Homo sapiens: one gene and its partner. The protein of the gene in region 2 interacts with the protein of the main gene of each other region in a biochemical or structural test. Each region holds a gene or a part of one and is shown on either strand. Other genes may lie near its edges. The genes, in order: EXOSC7 and MPHOSPH6.

Region 1 (7,164 bases), on a different chromosome or scaffold from region 2:
CGGGGCAGGGCTCCGGATCTGCAGCCTGCCATGCGGGAGCCTCCCCGCCCTCCCACCCCCACCCATGGGTGCTCCTGTGTGGCCCCAACCTCCCCAAGGAGCGCTGCCCCCTGCTCCACGGCGCCCAGTCCCATCGACCACCCAAGGGCTGAGGAATGCGGGTGCATGGCAGGGGACTGGCAGGCAGCTCCACCTGCGGCCCCAGTGCAGGATCCACTGGTTGAAGCCAGCCGGGCTCCTGAGTCTGATGGGGACTTGGAGAACCTCTATGTCTAGCTAAGAGATTGTAAATACACCAATCAGCACTCTGTATCTAGCTACTCTGGTGGGGACTTGGAGAACCTTTGTGTCTACACTCTGTATCTAGCTAATCTACTGGGGAGGTGGAGAACCTTTGTGTCTAGCTCAGGGATTGTAAACGCACCAATCAGCACCCTGTCTAACAGACCACTCGGCTCTCTGTAAAATGGACCAATCAGCAGAATGTGGGTGGGGCCAGATAAGAGAATAAAAGCAAGCTGCCAGAGCCAGCAGTGGCAACCCGCTTGGGTCCCCTTCCACACTGTGGAAGCTTTGTTCTTTCGCTCTTTGCAATAAATCTTGCTACTGCTCACTCTTTGGGTCCACACTGCCTTTATGAGCTGTAACACTCACCGCGAAGGTCTGCAGCTTCACTCCTGAAGCCAGCGAGACCACGAACCCACCTCGGGAGGAATGAACAACTCCAGGTGTGCCGCCTTAAGAGCTGTAACACTCACCATGAAGGTCTGCAGCTTCACTCCTGAGCCAGCGAGACCACGAACCCACCAGAAGGAAGAAACTCCGAGCACATCTGAACATCAGAAGGAACAACTCCGGACACGCCGCCTTTAAGAACTGTAACACTCACCGCGAGGGTCTGCAGCTTCATTCTTGAAATCAGTGAGACCAAGAACCCACCAATTCCAGACACAATATCCCTATCTTGAGTCTGGAGATGGATTCAAAAAGCAACAGAATTTCAAGTCTAAGAGAGTAAGCCTTTAGGATAGAACTCCAGAAGGTGATCCCTCTTCACTGGAAGACCCATAACTATGTAACTGTGTCTCTTCCCAACCTCACCCATAGAACCTGAAGGCTTTCTAGCTCAATCTCTAACACTCCAGCCCTCTCCACCTCCATGTGCCCCACTCCCCAGCTAGGAAAGTGAATACCCAGCCCAGAAAGGTTATTGACAAGAAGTTCTTTGTGGGGTGTAAATATGGTGTAAGTATGAACAATCATTAGGAACATGACTCATGGTTCCAGGCCAGCTCCTGGCACTAACTAGCCACTTGACTTAGGACAAGCCCCTTCCCTCTCTGGATTAGTTTCCTCATTTGTAAAAGATGGAGATTAAATTAGTCTCAAAGTGATTCTCTAATTCTACAGATCTATAAATTAAAATGGCTGTAATTATTTGCAATAAATAATAGCAGCTGCTATTTACTGTGCATTTACTATATACCAGATAATGTGCAAGGAATACTGCAGTTAATGCATTTAATCTTTTCAATAATCCTATACGATAGTGTTATTCATTCCATTTTACAAATGAGAAAACTGAGGTTAAAAGATGTCAAATGAATGGCCCAAGTTCAGACAGCCAGTAAGTAGCACTTAAGCCTCAAGTCAGAGCTCTTAACCGCTATGCTACACAGTCCACTGCATTCTAAAGGATGTCTTCACTTTACAAAAGGACTCAGCAGAGACCTCCTTCACAGGATGAACTGGCTGGCCACAAGGTCACAGGGTTTACTACTGCTGCTTCTTCCTTTTTTTTTTTTTTTGAGACAGGATCTCACTCTGTCACCCAGGCTGTAGTGCAGTGGTGATCACTGCAGCCTCAAACTCCTAGGCTCAAGCAATCCTTCTACCTCAGCCTCCTGAGTAGCTAGGACTACAGGCACATGTCAACATGCCCAGCTAATTTTTATTTTTTACTTTTTGTAGAGATGGGGTCTTGCTATGTTGCCCAAGTTGGTCTCAAACTCCTGGCCTCAAGTGACCCTCCTGCCTTAGCCTCCCAAAGTGCTGGGATTACAGGCATGCGCCACCACATCTGGTCCAACTACTGCTTCTAAAATATCACTTGCTCTGAAAGATTAGTCACACCTCTTTGTAGTGAAAATGTACTTGGTCCAGGAAGGGGCTGGTGGGCTGTCAGAAAACTGAGCCTCATCAGATACTGCTTTTCCAGCCTTTAATTCACTCTCTGCCTCCTGGAGAAAGGCTCAGGTGATAAGTAAAAGATAAATGAAAAGCTACAAATTTTCCTTTCCAAGCATGCATAATTTTTTTCCATATAAAAAAAGGATAGGAGGAAAACAAACCAAAAAAACCAACCTAACCAGTCCATGAATCACTGTACCCAGGGCAACTTTTTTTTTTAAACCCAGTTTTCCTTATAAAAGGCTTAGGAAATTGTCCAAACCTGCCTGGCCTAGCTCAGGGCCTGGTGCCCTACCACAGTTTTTATTTATCTGCAGCAGTCACGAGCAAAGGAATTAATCCATGTGTGAACACTTAAATAGGAGTTACCCTGAAGTAAAAGCTCCATTTTAAAACTCAAGAGATGTCAACAGCATGGAGTGGTGTCCCCTCCTTCTCAGCAGAGGAGACTGATGTGCCTCTAGATCAAGGGCTTCTGGATGCCAGGAAAGCTCTTGGTGACTTTCACAGCTGTTACCCATGTGATCACAACAACCCTACCAGTAGGGTGTGGTGTGGTGGAAACAGCCACCTTCCAAATTATACTTAAATCTCTGTTGTCACATGCCAGTTTTGTGACCTTGACCTAAATAGCTCTAAGCCTGTTTCTTCATCTAGAAAGCAGGGATAACCCCGACCTTACAGAGTTACAAGAGAACAGAAACGTCATAAAGCATTTAAAGGAGTCCTTCAGTGTAACACATAGGAGTCCCCCCAAAGCAGTTCCCTTCCCCTGCTTCTGGGGGCATGCATTAACTCACTGCATCCTCAAAAACAACCCTGAGAGAGGTTACAGATAAGAATGGAGGCACCTAAGTTTCAATCTCCTGTTTGTGACAGAGTGGAAGGACATTTAAGCACAGACCTACTTTCCCTCACACCCAGGAAGCCCAGTCCTATTACTTCTTAATAGAAACTGACAAGTTGGCGCTACCAATCTGACACATCTGGAAGGACTTTAGACTCAAAGTGGTCCTCTGAGGTTATGTTAACCCCTCATTAACTTGCTTTGACTTGTCTAATACTCCAGATTCCTAAAGGAGAAGTGAGACTAAATTCCTTCCCCTACTAGAAGGTGACTGCCCCCCGCCCTTAGGAAAGGGGCCACATTTGGTCCAGCTTTGCAGGCTCGGGCCCATCACACAGCAGGCAAAAGTAGGTGTTGATCCTTGTTTGACTTTCCAACCCTGTTGAGTAGCCAGGCATTCCTCTGAAAGGATATGGCTCCATAACTCTGCATCCTGCAGTGTCTGGGCATAAGGCTTTCTGTGCCATGGGTCTGTAAACAGAAAGGGCAGAGAGCTAAAAATCAAGAGTCCTGAGGGCTGGCTCCAATTCTGTCATGGCCAGACTGAGCAACCGAATACTGACTGCTCAATCTCATAGTTGAAAACCAGGCTGAGGCCCTGATCTCCCTCTTCCATGCTATACCCCTAAACAATGCTTATGATGAAAGCAAGATCCACAGAAAAGAAATGGAAGCCATCAGCTGGGCTACAACTCCCTTCAACAGCCAAGAACATACAATAAAATGGCTTTCACAGGGTTCCAAGAGCCCTGTGGTAGGGTTCGTCAATTGCCATGGCCAGGTCTGAACCTATGAGGGCCAGTTTAATGTCCAGGTCATAGCCATAGCACTCAGTAGGCTGAACCTGGGAAAGCTTTATTGTGCCTAAAGCCCTGTAAAGGCCACATAACAGTCACCATCCATCCCCAACAGCCAGGACCAGGGGTAGGTGCCTGAACCAAAGGCATATAATCCAAAGGGTGACCAACTCTTTTTGGCGTGAAATACTACCAGACCAAACTGATTCTCTCATTGCAATCTGGTCTCTGATCTGAGAAACACTTGAGAGAAGAAAGGAGTTAAAGAGGAGCTGACAGGTCATGATATGGAGGAGCCCAGAGAGGCCACACGAAAGTAAAGGTATTGGGCAGAGGCAGATTCTACAAAGAAGGGAAGCTGGACAGCAAGTGGCTGCAGAGAAGGGATAAATCTTGGCAGAGAAAAGCAGAGATGTCACTAGAGATAAAGACAGACAGCCACACAGGCCATGAGATAATCCACGGAGCCCATGAGAGGCGGTACCTCAGAGCTGTCTGGGGACTTTCCAGCTCTTGCCACAGATCCCCCTTCTCTTTTTTCTTTTTCTTTCTTTTAAGAGACAGAGTATCTCTCTGTCACCCAGGCTGGAGTGAAATCTCCAACTCCTGGGCTCAAGCGATCCTCTGGCCTCAGCCTCCCAAGCAGCTAGGCCTACAGGCACACACCACCACACACCTAATTTTTTTTAGAGATAGGGTGTTGCTATGTTGCCCAGACTGGATGCCAACTCCTGGCCTCTGGTGATCCTCCCACCTCAGCCTCCCAAAGGGCTGGGATTACAGGTGTGAGCCACTGCACCTGGCCTATCCCTTTTCTTGAGATAATTGAAAAATCCCGATTCCTTCAAATCAAAAGAGGTTTAATTCTCAGGAGCCACAGGCTGAATCTTTAATGAGGTCACTATGAAGGCTGGGGATCTAGTGTGGATGGTTTAAGACAAAGTCACACTTCTGATGGAAAAACAAACTTGAAAGGGAGCCAGCATTTTTTCTGTGTTAACCACAGCCCAAGTGCTTGACATCTCTTATCTCATCATTCCTCATAACCCCATTCTACTTCCAGGTGCATAAGTCCCCATTTTACACAAGGGAAGCAGGTTCAGTTATGCAAGTAAAACCACTTATTGTAAATGGTGAAGGTGCCTGCTCAGTCTGACTCCAAAGCCTCATTCAAAAAGAGGCAGGAAACCATATGACTTCAGCAGGAGAGAGCAGAGATTTCTTTATCTCTGGTCAGTGGCTTACCCATGGGCCAATGTCTGGTGGCTGCCCCCAAATTTCCCAACACTTTATGATAATGTCCATTCTCAGGCCCCAGCCCCAGAGAGTCTGATTCAGAATGTTGGGGTAAAGCCTCAGAATCTGTATTTTGTAGGTGAGTAAAATGCACTTCAAGGCTTCAGAATCCCTGGGCTAAGAGGGAGGTTAGCAATGGCTTCTCATGGATGAGGAAAACACACATCTAGCCCAGTAAGCCAGAAAAGAGGATAAATCCTAGATTCTAAAAATTCTGAAGTCTGCTCCAAGTTCTGCATGGTATGGGCAGAGTAAATCGTTTATGATACTAGTAAGACAAAAGCTATACAAAGAAATGCAATATAGGGTTCTAAAGGAACTTATACTCAATGTGGGAAAAATGCAACCAAAACAATACAGCAGTATATGCCATATACTATTTAAGCTCTAGAAAAACTGGGGAGTGGGAGGTGTCAATTAGAACTTTCTCTTTCCCTTCCAGTTTCCCCACAAGCTTTTAGAGAAAGGGGGAAAGAAAAGGAGGTAGAGGAAGCAAAGATTCTCTCCTGCCTTGATCTCTGGATCCCTACTGAGGAAATGGAAGAAATGACTTTCACTGCAGCAGGAAGGTGGCCTCAGAGTCAAGTATGGGCTTTGCAATCAGACAGGTCTGGATTTAAATCCCAGTGCCACCACTCAATTACTGTGTCACCTTGACAAGCGACTCAACCTGCCCGAGCTCAGTTCCTCATCTATAGAGATAACATTTACCTTCAGAACTGTTGTAAATATTCAATGAAATAAAAATTATAATATGTACCTAATAAGAATGGGATATAGCCTTCAAAGACTGAAAGAGAACCTAACAGAAACCAATCAAATTATTTATCAAAATACCGATTTAATCCACCTTTTTGATTCTCTGTTCTCCCCTGGGAGAGGGGATCTGTTCACCAGGTTGACTCAAATTGTATCACCTAGACTCCCTTTGCTGGCTTCTGGTTGGGTTTGTCCAGTGGAAGATACCAGATCAGAGGGTGCCCCTCACCCCCAATCTAGTGGCCACATTTCTGATAGTGCCTGCATCTATCGAAGACTATGACTTATGTTGGGCAGCCCTTCCTCCACAGTTCCAGCTATCACTGAAATGTGGTAATACTGTTTCCTCCCCTGGCCCCTTTGGAATAGGGGCAGTAGCCACTCCCAGTAGTTGTCTTGGGGCTCCTCAACATCTCTTATTGGTTCCCTGAAACCCCCCCCATACTGCTCTAGAGTCCCATCATAAAAGTCTCCTGAACTACCTGAAGAGGGTTCCATTTTCTGCCAATAACTAAAATGATCCACCCTCCCTTCTCACAAACTGACTTCTCCCAAGTGTGACACATCCTCTAGTGGCCATGTTTGAGCCTAATTATTCTGTCCATCCTTTCCCTCAACCCCCTAAAAGAACTAGAGTTTCTTTCTCTTGGAAACATGAGTTCAGAACTGAACGAGAAGGAATGGTCTCTTTTACAGAGGAACTGGGAAGGAACCACATTTTTTCTACCACTGGCCCAAGAAATAGAAAACCAATCTGTAGGGAGACAAAAACAAAGCAAAGAGGGGGAAAAAAAAAACCAGCAGAGATTAGGATTCCTGGAGAAACACTTGCAGCCTTGTAATCCATACTGTTTTGCTTGAGCCGATGTGTTGGTTACCATTACTAGCAACTGAATCCTCAACACATCGTGAGGTTAATTTCAACTGCTTCTAACTATCACCAAAACAAGATGAAATATTCCCTGAAATAGTAAAAGAACCAAAGGCTGAAGGGAAAGTGACATCAGAAGCTGAAATGGACGTTACTGGACCAAAGGTGAAAAGTAAAACACAAAATGACTAGGACTATACAAGCAACAGGAGTTCAGGCAGGCACTGCTTAAGGTGCACTGCCGGCACTCTATAACCAACGCAACAAAAGTTTAGGAGATTTCAGAACTGAATCAGTTGAGATTCCATGGTAGGCTCATTCACCTGCATCCTGACCTTTATTTGGATGGTGTAAATTGTGTTTTGCTCCTCTATACATATGGCATATTTTGGGCCAACATTAAT
Region 2 (5,727 bases):
GGGAAGAACTCGTTACTTCCCAGAGTTGGGAGGTGCATCATTCTCATACTCACAGTGAAAAAAAAAAAAAAGGCCAGATTAACTTCAAAGTCCTATCTTTTCTCATAACTCACCAGAGAACTGAGGTCACAGAGCAATAAAACCTTCCTTACAGAGATTTGAGGAGAGAGGAGACATGTACCTCATTCACTTCCTGGGAGCGAAATTAAATCAGTAGTTCTCAGAAGTCCTAGGTACTTATCTGCAGACAGAAAGACAGACACACATACACACACTTAATTCTATGTGCTTCTTTCTGTACTTAGCATTTAGAATAGAGTTCAGACTAGGAGATGGTACCATTGGTCAGTGGTAAATTCTGTTGGGTTATACCGTAAGAAACTAAAGGTTATTTTTGACCTGTAAAAGGCAATTTCTTATGGTTCAACCTAATACATCACTATATTCTGATCAATGGCTGTTTTTTAAAGTTATTATTTGGAAAAAAGTTATATTACTGAATTAGACTAAAATTGTTATTTGAAAGTACAAGAAAATATAAAAAGTATGTGAAAGTAGATTTTTATTACAGAGCAAATTTTTCTATCAATTCAATGCTTTAAATAAAACAACATAATACCATAAACTGACAATGACCTGGGAGCATGTAAATACTTAAGGCTGGAGAGGCATTTTTATTCTTGATAAATTTATATAATAAATTCTTATGACATTTGATTCCAAATTGTATGTACGAATTGGCTTGACATAATAAATATAAACATAAGGGCAATTTAAACATTGGCAGTAGTTTATGTAAGTCAATTCAAGGTCAGTGACTGGAGAACTATATTAAGAGAAACCTGAGGTAAAAAAAATCTTTAGGAAGCAGCCCTGTAACAATGTACATTTGTAGATCAGGGGCTAAAAATCCACTCTGAATGAATACCAAGAAGCAAAGGATGTACAACATCCATCACACATCTGTTTCAAAAACAGCATGTTTCTAAAATGATAATCTCTTTACAAGTAAACGTTACAGTATTAATAACTATAGAGACACCATTGGGATGAGCTCCAGATGCCCTGCTGACTTCCACCAAGCACCCCTGGGCCATCGCTTAAGGCATCCATCTTAATCCTGGGGCTTTAAGAACATCTTCTTTGCTTTAATTGGTGTTATGTCTCCATTTTCATCTTCTTCATAATTGGCATGGTCTCTCTTTCTGGCAAACTTTTTCCCAATTGTCCCCACCAAGGTCTCATATCTGTCAAGAGGACAGGCAGCACACGTTTAATTTCAAATAAAAAGGTAGGGATCAAGCCTTGTCAAGAATATCAGACCAAATATGCAATAAAAAAGATTACGAAAAAGAAAACTATCATTAAAAGAAACCATCTGATTTAACAATTTATGAACTTCTCTAAGAGTGATTAAATTCCTTGCCATTTTGGTGTTTGCATTACCCTAAATAAATAGAGATGTACATTTTAAAATACACATTTCCAGCAGCTCTGGAAATGGGCCCTCAACTGGCAGCCTGAGACAGGTCTGTGGCCCCCGTAGGCCATTAAGAGAAGGCCGATCACAGTCATCGTCCTACTGGGGGACTCCCTTGAAAGCTGCCGTGCACTGTGGGGTAAGAGGAGCATTCCTGGGAGAGCCAATGAATGCTAGGTCCAGATTAGAAGGCTGCTGCGCAGCACGGTTACCTTCTAGCCATCTCTTCATCTGACACATCAAGCTCTACTGTTTCATCTTCAACTTCTTCTGCTTTGTGCTTAGCATTCATCTGAAGCATCAATTTCTGAAAAATACACCAGTGCTGACCTTCAGGCTAGAAAACGCTTGTGAAAGGAACTGATGTCAAACTTACCTGAAGGCAGAGAAACTGAAGTCAAATAATCTAGAGAACTAGTCAAAATTGATAAGGGACTCTCTGTAATACTTGATACCACAATGGTGTAAGAGAAGTAAGCTCTGAGTCAAAAAAATAGTAAGGCAAAGCCCCACTGAATTATACTTAGGGTGAATTTAAAGTGTATTTAAGATCATAAATCTTAGTATTAGTTACTCATATTTAAAGCAGGCATACTGCTGACACATTCCGGTGAGTGGGGGAAGAAATAATAAACTTTCAGATTTTCCCTGAACTTCCCCCACCCATCTTTAAGCCATATGGAAGAAACACTAGTCGTCAGTAATAATTTTAAATGCATCTCTTGGTGGTGGTGGTGGTGAGTGGAGGAGGTGGGAGAAGTGGAAGGCTGGCCCTGTTTAATGGAGGGAATCTGCACCTCAGCCTTACCCTCCTAAACTTTAGAGTGGATAATGCATCCCATGTAACATCCATGCACCACAGGGTCTCTCCTCCAACTCTTTCACATAAACCTTTTTGTGATAATTATCCTCTGACCTTTTTTTTTTTAAATGTGTAATCTCTTCTTTTTAGCAAGAGGAGAAGGAATAAAAGATGAGAAATCAGTCTTAACTAGTTTTTCTAAGGCTTAAAAGAGTGATAATAGTTTAAAACCTTTTCCTAGGGGGAGTGTATTCAGTGTTTCAGAATCCAGTAATTAGGGCCATTTTCTAACACCCGTCCCTGCCCCCCATCAATTTCTGCGGGCAGTGGCACCTCTCCTTTCCCATTGCAGCAGACATACTTTGGAATGCTCGCCTATCCAAACCCTACTCTTTGAATACCACATCTTCATAATCCCTGCCTTTTTCTTCCCTCTTCACCCCACTGCCCAGCCCCTCTCCTTCTCAATCTGAAGCTTAATTAAAGAAAGTCAAAGCGAGACCAGCATATATTAAAAACAAACACTTCTAACATAACACCTTAATTATCACACATGCCTCCTCCCACTCCGCCAAAAAAGAAAAGGAAAACTAACCTAGAATCTTTCAATAAACTCTGGCAATTGGCTTAGTTAACTGTGGCTCCTAGAGAAGTGGTTCTTAACTGGGGATGATTTTCCCCACCAGGGAACCTGTGAAAATGTCTGGAAACATTTTTGGTTGTCACAGCTGGGTAGGAGGGTGGGGTGTGTGTGTGCTACTGATATTTAGTTGGTAGAGAACAGAGGACAGGGATGTGGTTCGTCATTCTCTTAGGAAAGCCACCACCACAAAGAATTATCTGGCCCCAAATGTTAACACTGCCAAGGGCAAGAAACACTGGCTTCAAGTAATATTTACCAAACTAAAGATTTATATCTCATGTGTCCATTTGGTTCATCAAGTACTTGATAGGATGGCTTTTAACATATGAGCCAGAGTTCTAATGAATATTTGTTAAATAAAGGTCTGCTTCTCTATCCTGGAGCAGGAAAATTCAAATGAATAGCTCAGTTATAAGGCAAATATTCATTTTTCAAACAAACTGTCGAAAGGATTCATTTAAAAATCTACTTACAAGCTTGGATTACAACAGTCCATTAAAAAGTCAAATGACATAATTCTAAAGTAACATTTTTCCGTTAGAAAAAATACATGTATAGGTGCCAGAAAATAACTTTTCATAATAGCATGATATGAATAAAATCTTGACGTTCCTGTAAAAGACACAACTTGAAATTTTAATATTTATGGTGGCTCTGTCAAGGGCTGTATACTGCTATATGAAATTATCTACTCACCTCTACCATAAAACTAGACTGCAATGCCTCCAATTTCTTTAAATAGCTATGGCGATATTTCAAGACTTGTTATTTTCTATATAATGAGTAGAAATGGTACCTGGTGGAGAAACACCTAAGCCCAATTATTAGCAGAAAAAAATTCAATTGGAAAAATTTTTAATTTGAAGCAATTATATTTAATACCTCAACCTCAGGATTAAATCCTCTGAATGACATTCTTCCATAGAGAAGATCTTCACATAGTAAGAAACTCTGCTCTTCTATTATGAAACTCCTAAATGGGAAAATAAAAATAGCATTTCTCCATATATAAAGCACAGCAAACAAAAGCCAACACTTTGAATAAAAAAAATAATCAACCTATGGTTCTCAGTAGAATGAAGTAAAAATACAGTAAGATTTCTAACTTAGGGTTAAAAATAAAATCTGATTAATTTGGTCAGCAAAGGCATTAGGAGACAAGAGCAGCAAGCTAGAGGCACAGCCTCTCTTAAACACCACATTTAATTTGCATAAATATCTACATAATATAAAGATCTAAAGTATTGACAATAAACTTGAATTTGCCAAAGTTGAAGCAAAGTTTCTTTTGTGTTTACATCCCCTCACCATATTTTTTTCCAATTCTTTTTCAGAAAGGAAATAATATGTATGTAAAAATACACATACAGTATACAGTGACACACTACTCCAAATCATTTTAATAAAGTTTCTGGCATATTTTGTCTTTCGTTCTCAGGGATTTCAAAAATTCCATTCTCTAATTATCAAAGCAGCACATTTTAAGGAACGTAATTTGGAAAGCAGAATAAAGTATGAGTTTATAAACTGCCTGTAAGCTCCTTACCAAGAGGATAAAAAGGACTGTTAGTATATTTGAATATTTCCTTCCAGTCTTTTTTGTACTTGCATTTACGTTGATTCTTGAACACAGGTCTGAGCTGTGTGGTGCACTTATACACAGATTTTTTTCAAAAAATTTCAATAGTTTTTGGGGAACAGGTGGTTTTTTGGTTACATGGATAAGTTCTTTAGTGGTGACTTCTGAGATTTTGGCCCCCACCAAATTCTTATTACAAATCCAGGAGAAGTAGTGGGAAATCAGAGGCTTGAGCAGCTTTAACAGTGTTATCAGTCAGAGCTCTTAGCTATAAACACCAAAGGCTGACCCTGGATGACTTCAGCAGAGAAGGAATTTACTGTAAGAACACTGTAGGCTCTTCATTTCCAAGGGGGACTGGTTCCAGGACCCCTTGTAGATATCAAAATCTGTGACACAAAGAGCCAGCTGTACTGGGCATCTCAGAATCACCGGGAAGGCTGAAGGGGCAGAATTGGAAGACGGGCAGAAATAACGGTCGCTAGGTGGTTGCACCAGAACCAAAATCATGCTAGAGAATGACCCTAGGAAAACCACTGTTGCTGCTGACGGGGCTGAGCACGACACCACTGATGGCATTGGGGCAGGTTGCGTTCCCTGGACCAGGATGTTTCTGTCTGCAGCAGAATTTCTCTGCTGAGTCACCACCACATGACCGTAAATCCAAGGTGACATATCTATCTCCAGCCTGGCCATAAACCCTAAAGCATGGCAGGAAAGCAAACATGTGGCTTTTAAGGCTTGTTTGCCGGAGTAGGCTCTGATTCTCATAAAGATTCCCTTATGCAACAAACACTTATTAAACCAAACTGTGTGTATTAAATCAAACTGCGGAAACAGCCACCAGTAAAAGAGCCTCAGCTGGGCACAGTGGCGGATGCCTGTAGTCCCAGTTACTCAGGTGGCTGAGGCAGGAGAACTGCTCGCATCCCAGAAGTGGAAGTTGCAATGAGTCAAGATTGTGCCACTGCACTCCAGCCTGGGTGACAGTGTCAAACACTCACCTCCAAAAAAAAAGAAAAAAAAGGAGCCTCTGCTCTCCTGGAGGTTACAGTCTATAGAAAGAGGGGCCAAATAATGAATGAAACATGAAACATTTATATCACACAATGGATGAAAATAAAGCAGGTTATTCCATCCCTAGCTGTAGGGGAGTAATTGGTATGGAACTAGCTTTCCTGCACCATAATTATATAAAACAGGACAAAATATAAAATGACCAT

What was found.
Region 1: the proteins of MPHOSPH6 (region 2) and EXOSC7 form a complex in vitro, tested with the Homo sapiens proteins (one study listed by BioGRID).

What each region holds. Positions count from the first base shown.
Region 1 is NC_000003.12:44,979,111-44,986,274, reverse strand, and holds part of EXOSC7 (exosome complex component RRP42), read right to left. Parts: intron 1-7,164. UniProt on the Homo sapiens protein: Non-catalytic component of the RNA exosome complex which has 3'->5' exoribonuclease activity and participates in a multitude of cellular RNA processing and degradation events.
Region 2 is NC_000016.10:82,147,617-82,153,343, forward strand, and holds the end of MPHOSPH6 (M-phase phosphoprotein 6), read right to left. Parts: intron 3,899-5,727; coding exon 3,808-3,898; intron 1,788-3,807; coding exon 1,693-1,787; intron 1,248-1,692; coding exon 1,115-1,247; 3' UTR 546-1,114; downstream 1-545. UniProt on the Homo sapiens protein: RNA-binding protein that associates with the RNA exosome complex. Involved in the 3'-processing of the 7S pre-RNA to the mature 5.8S rRNA and play a role in recruiting the RNA exosome complex to pre-rRNA; this function may include C1D.